Linked DNA regions of Homo sapiens. The protein of the gene in region 1 interacts with the protein of each later gene in a pairwise test. Each region holds a gene or a part of one and is shown on either strand. Other genes may lie near its edges.

Region 1 (3,820 bases):
TAATTGTAGAAGGAAATTCTAGTTATATTGTAGTTGAGTTTGTTCAATGTTATGTTTTGGCTCATTGAGATGCAGCTTCTTAGAAGCCTCATGCTTTCAGCTCCTTGATTGGCAGAAGTCATATGTGCAACTGAAATAAGAAAATTCATTTCCATAGATGTTTCTGGCAGCATAAAGACAGCTTCCCTGATCTGTTCTTCTGTCAGGCCTAGAAATGATATATATGTTGAAAGATTTATGTTGTCCTAAGGAGAAACCTAACAGAAGACAATAAATATTTTTTTTTCTAAAACCTCTTCCCAAGATTAGTGTAAATTGTGAAAATGATAATACAATTCTTTTCTGGGATTAAAACACTTTCCAAAAACTAATAGTTAACTTATTTGTAGCAGTAATCATTTGCCTTATTTAGAGCTCTGTAGGCAAGGGGGACCTCATCAGTGCTACTGCAAAATGGCTATGTTGATTGAGTCAATGGAAATAACATTTCACTTGATACTGGCTTTTAATTTTTTCCCTTATCCTTACTGTTAGGATTTAAAACCAAGTAACATTGTAGTCAAGTCTGATTGCACATTGAAAATCCTGGACTTTGGACTGGCCAGGACAGCAGGCACAAGCTTCATGATGACTCCATATGTGGTGACACGTTATTACAGAGCCCCTGAGGTCATCCTGGGGATGGGCTACAAGGAGAACGGTAGGGATGCTTCGGGAGAGCAGCATCAAAACCATGAATGAAACGGGTGCACGTTGTAGATAGCCAAGGGGAATGTTCTCTTTTATGTACATGCTTTTATAAAGTAGGGCTGCCAGATAGCATATTCAGGGTTTTTTTTAATACTACTGGTAAGAAACACTCATTAAAAATGTGAAGGATGTTATTGAGAAGTCAGTTTTGCTAGAAGAGCACTAAATGTTAATAGTGAAAAAGAATTGTAAATGGAGTCTGATTAAACAGTCAAGCGGATGCTGATTAGCACACGTGCCTAGATATTGAGAAAAATTGCTATTTGGGTTGCAGCTCAGCTGAGCATGAGTGTGAAAGCAGAAAGGAATCTACCACAGTTAGCCATGTGGCTTTTATGTTGTATCTCAGACTGATGGCTGTAGTTCTAGAAAAAGACAAGCAAAAAAGTGACACAAATCCTTAGAGTGAAAATCTTCATAGACAACTTTGAAATAATCCAAATTATTTAAACTGAATAAGAATTTCTGTAATAATTTAAGCTGCTCTGTAAGAAACATTTAGAGTAGCAATTGCCTAATAAATCCTTATATATTCCAAAAATCGTAAAAAAGGAAAATGTCAAATTTGACACTACTGCTTTCATAAAGAAAACTTAATGTTCATGAACACTTTAAAATGAAGGCTATGGAAGGAATCTTAAAAATGTATCACAATTGAGTGTAGTTGATTAAAACTAAGGATTTATTAAATATGTTAGAAAGCATTGCAATGTATTATTTTGATGAGACTATATCTTACAAGTAATGCACCATATTGAAAACATATTCAATATACTTAGGAATTAAAATAGTTTTAAATTAGGATTGTATATGTATTCAGTGTATCTTTAATATTTATTTTTATATTCTATTCTATTTAGTTTTTAGCAGTCTGTATTAATAAGTTTTATAAAAATAATCAGTGTATTTTTATGTACAGGTGCTACAGGGTACTTTTGTGAAAATTCCCTGGCCACTGAAGTTTACAGAAACTTCTTTGTATACTCTTAGATTAGAAGACAGATAATGTATGTATGCATTTATACAGAGGAAGTTAAAAAGTCACCTCTTACAAAGGTCAGGTTCACCCTGGTGGGCAATATCGGAGTTCTGGTACCTTTTGACTCAGAAGAGATGAATCTAGCCCTCCTTGCTAGGCAATACCACATCTAATTTATTCAGAAAAGAAGACATTTTTATACTTTCTTCACGAGTTATTTTTAAAAAGTCAAAGGAGAAACAAAGTCAAGAATCAAGAATGTACAGGAGACTGGGGGGTGGGGCGGTCTGAATTTGCCTATTTGGGCTTTCAGATCTTGGCACTACCAATAGCTGGTATTAAAATCCCTTTCCCTTCCCTCACTAGAAGGAATTGCAAGTTGCTGCCTTAGGTTTTTGACTTCTCTAAGTCCATGGAGGAGGCCTGCCTAGCACCCTGGTGCTGCCCTCCCACCAATGGGAGGAAGGTTATCATGCAGAAAAACCTGCTTGCTCCCACATCAGGCATGCCCTGCTGTCCCCTGCACCTAGCCCCGCCTTCCTTCCCCATGGAACAATTCGGCCAAATGATTCTGCCCAAAAGTTCCCTTTGTCCATAATGAAAAGCAAGTTGGAAAGGGGTAAAGATTGGTAAGAGAAGGCAAAGCATGTTTTCCTAACAAGTTTGACAATTTGGAAATAAATATATGTACATAACAATTTTTAACACCTTTAATACTTTTTTCACTTTCCTTCCAGATGACTCCTTTATACATGTGCTAATTCATCATATGTCTTTTTTCTTGAAATATTTCAAATGGAAACTAAAACTGATGTTTATTTACAAGAATAAACTTCTGAAGGAAAAGCTAAGTCCCAAATACCAGGAATTCCAATTCTTTTGCCTCTAAACCATGGTTCCAGTCATTTCCTGGTTTATTGGATTTGGTTGAATTTATCTTGTTTTGCCCCGGCCCCCTGGCCCCCTGAAAAAAAAGGTGGTCTCTTGTTGCCCTATTCTCTGTAACTGAATAGAATAGAAAATGAAAATAGCCAACTCTACAAGTTAATATTGTTTTCTATGCATCCGGAAAATGACACAGAAAACCCTTTGGTGGCTTTTAGCTGTCACCTGCCATGGAGATACTTTTGGTTTAGCTATTGCTTTTCTCAGTCACCAATGTCACCACTTTGTGGCACTGCTGAGAGGCAATGTAAGGCACCCACAAAGTAATGGGTTTTTAAACATTAATTTGAGTTCTCATACTAAACACTGTTTATGTAATAGCATAGCGCTGGTTTGAATTCACATTTTGGCCAACTTTTGGTGGGAGGTGAAAATTGTACTTTTAATCAAACTGTTCTTTTTCCTCCTCCTTCAGAAGTCAATTATCTTAGTTAACTTTACTTTCCTCCCTTTTCTTCACTACCCTCTCTCTCCTGTTCTAGTGGATATATGGTCTGTGGGATGCATTATGGGAGAAATGGTTCGCCACAAAATCCTCTTTCCAGGAAGGGACTGTATCCTTGTACCTTTTGCTACAGCTTTACCTGTTTTGTTCTCTCTCCCTTTTAAACACATAATGATTTTACCAGGAGAGTAAAGATAGAAGCAAAAAGTTGGGTAAGTGGTGTTATTGTAATAAAAAAGTGATAATTTCTATAATCTGACCAGTACTGAAGACTGCCTACCACAATGATTTCTTTTAATTAAATTTCAATGGGCTTTTTTCTTCTAAAATTACTTTCTTGCCTGCAACTAAAAATAGAAATGCTATTTTTCTTTAATAACAAAGGCTACCAGATCCCAAATGATTAAAATATATTTACCTTTATAACTAGCAAAATAAGTCACTATTTGCAAGTCATTTTCCATCTCCTTTCTAAAACTATTTTGTGCTTCTACAATATTTAGGCATAATAATTGCTCTCCTTGCTGACATTCTAAGCTTCTGTCTATGGCTTTGTTGATTTAAATTACTCGACACTAAATCAAGTCTTTAACAGGTCAATATAGCATATCTTCCTCAAAACATGAACTTCTGCATTTAAAAATTGTAATTATTGTTCAAGTTGCTAGTGGTCAGGTGAGTTTAATGTAGACTTCTCTCAC
Region 2 (2,724 bases), on another chromosome or scaffold:
TGGGGAAGTGGCTGCAGTGGCCCCATCCCGACCCGGCAGGGAGCCCCAGGCCGGGCCCTCGCGGTGGGCATCCGCAGCCCAGACCATCCACTCCAGCCTCCCCCGGAAACCGAGGACTGCCTCTGCCACCACCCGTGTGGGCTGTGCTCGCCTGGGCCAGAGCCCACCTGGCCGTGGAGGCCTGTTTGAGGACCCATGGCTGCTCCGGGTAGGGGAGTGTGATACCCAGGCAGCTTCTGCTGGCAGGGCCCCCAGCCCCACACTTGGCTCCCCCCGGCTGCCTGAGGCCCAGGTGATGCTAGCCTGTGCCCAGAGAGTGGTGGACGGGTGTGAGGTGGCAGCCAGGGCGGCCCGCAGGCCAGAGGCTGTGGCTCGGATCCCACCGCTGCGGAGGGGTGCCACCACGCTGGGTGTGACAACGCCAGCTGTGTCCTGGGGAGATGCTCCCACGGAGGTGGTGGCCTGCTCGGGGAGCCTGAAGGCCTCCCCCACCAGCAAGAAGGGTCTGGCTCCCAAGGCGGGCTTCCTCCCGAGGCCCAGTGGGGCGGCCCCCCCGGCCCCACCCACGCGGAAGTCCAGCCTGGAGCAGAGGAGCAGCCCGGCCTCGGCCCCTCCGCATGCTGTGAACCCGGCGCGGGTCGGGGCTGCTGCTGTCCTTCGAGGGGAGGAGGAGCCCAGACCCAGCAGCCGGGCTGACCACTCTGTCCCCAGGGCCACGTCCAGCCTGAAGGCCCGGGCCAGCAAGGTAGAAGCAGCACACCGTCTTGCCGGACACGCGTCTCTGGAGCGGTACGAAGGCCTGGCGCACAGCAGCAGCAAGGGCCGGGAAGCCCCTGGGCGGCCTCCCCGGGCTGTACCCAAGCTGGGTGTGCCACCCTCCAGCCCCACACACGGTCCAGCTCCCGCCTGTAGGAGCGGCGCAGCCAAGGCTGTGGGGGCCCCCAAGCCCCCTGTTGGTGGAGGCAAGGGCCGTGGCCTAGTGGCTGGTGGGTCGCGGGCTCTGGGGCCTTCGGTGAAGCTGTCTACGGCCTCTGTGACGGGCAGGAGCCCTGGCGGCCCTGTGGCCGGTCCCAGAGCAGCCCCACGGGCCGGGCCCAGTGTCGGGGCGAAGGCTGGCCGGGGTACCGTCATGGGCACAAAGCAGGCGCTCCGGGCTGCTCACAGCCGCGTCCATGAGCTGTCAGCCAGTGGAGCCCCGGGCCGAGGTGGCTCCTCGTGGGGCTCGGCGGACTCAGACAGCGGCCATGACAGCGGCGTGAACGTGGGGGAGGAGCGGCCACCCACGGGCCCGGCCCTGCCCTCCCCCTACAGCAAGGTGACCGCCCCACGGCGGCCCCAGCGCTACAGCAGCGGCCATGGCAGCGACAACAGCAGCGTGCTGAGTGGAGAGCTGCCGCCCGCCATGGGCCGCACCGCCCTTTTCCACCACAGCGGTGGCAGCAGTGGCTATGAGAGCCTGCGGCGCGACAGCGAGGCCACCGGCAGCGCCTCCTCCGCCCCTGACTCCATGAGCGAGAGTGGGGCTGCCTCCCCAGGCGCCCGCACCCGCAGCCTCAAGTCCCCCAAGAAGAGGGCCACAGGTGGGTGCAGAGGTGCACAGCCCTCTACAGTTTACGGGCTTTCTGTGTGTAGATGTGCACAGCCCTCTACAGTTTACAGGGCCAGGAGATGCTGGACAGATGGGCACAGCCTTCAAGGTCCCAGACCCACACAGCCGTGGACGGTTTACAGACTCGCCTGGGGCTTTTTGTGTGTGGAGGTGCACGGCCCTCTGCAGTTTATAAACCCCCTGTACTTGCCCTTCTCTGGCCCCACCCTGCCCTGGGGGGCTGATCCTGGTCTGTGTCTGGGTGAGCACAAGGGCAGCCCTGCACAGGTCGCCAGGCTGGGGCACTGGACTCGGGTTTGGGTCCCGGGCCTCGTGCCTCCCTGGCGAGTGTCGAGCTGCCTGGAAGGCCCCCGCCAGGGCTGCCCCAAGGGACAGAACTGCTCAGGTCATGGCAGGGAAAGTGGGAGGCCCTGGTGGTGGTGGGGGCGCCCTTGAGAGCTGTGGGCCTGGCTTGGGGTCGGCTTCCTCCCTGCCCTGGGCAGAGCGCCAGCCTGAGGATTCCTGGACTGGATCCCGAAGGCCTCCCTGTCAGGACTCGGGCCGGCTCCGCAGCGTCCCCGCAGGGGCTGTGCTTGGGCTGGGCCCCGCCTCTGTTCACCCTGTGCCCGGCTCTCCGTTCCAGGTCTGCAGCGGCGGCGCCTGATTCCCGCCCCACTGCCCGACACCACTGCCCTGGGCCGTAAGCCCAGCCTCCCCGGGCAGTGGGTGGACCTGCCCCCGCCCCTGGCTGGCTCCCTGAAGGAGCCGTTCGAGATCAAGGTGTACGAGATCGATGACGTGGAGCGCCTTCAGCGGCCCCGCCCCACCCCGAGGGAGGCCCCCACCCAGGTAGGGCCTTTGGTGGGCTGGGGTCTATGACCCCTGGTGGGGAGCCTGCCGCGGATGGCAGAGTGAGCCATTTGATGGGCTCGCCAGGCCTCTGGGGGTGTGGCTGGGCAGCCCCTGACCTCACTTTCTGTCCACGTTCCTCCCAGGACGCAAAGGTAGGAGCGGCCCTGCCCAGCCCAAGCCTGTTGCAGCTCCGACACTCCCCTTGGGCAGTGGGTGGGTGGCTGGGGGGTCCTGAGGCCACTGCTGCTGTCCGCTGGAATTCTCCCCTGTCGTGGGGAGGGTGG

The links.
Region 2: the proteins of MAPK10 (region 1) and KIF26A interact in a two-hybrid assay, tested with the Homo sapiens proteins (one large-scale study listed by BioGRID and IntAct).

Annotation. Positions count from the first base shown.
Region 1 is NC_000004.12:86,097,932-86,101,751, reverse strand, and holds part of MAPK10 (mitogen-activated protein kinase 10), read left to right. Parts: intron 1-534; coding exon 535-700; intron 701-2,466; coding exon of another isoform or gene 2,467-2,618; exon of another isoform or gene 2,619-3,150; intron 3,151-3,156; coding exon 3,157-3,228; intron 3,229-3,303; coding exon of another isoform or gene 3,304-3,311; exon of another isoform or gene 3,312-3,820. UniProt on the Homo sapiens protein: Serine/threonine-protein kinase involved in various processes such as neuronal proliferation, differentiation, migration and programmed cell death.
Region 2 is NC_000014.9:104,176,319-104,179,042, forward strand, and holds part of KIF26A (kinesin-like protein KIF26A), read left to right. Parts: coding exon 1-1,580; intron 1,581-2,231; coding exon 2,232-2,437; intron 2,438-2,724.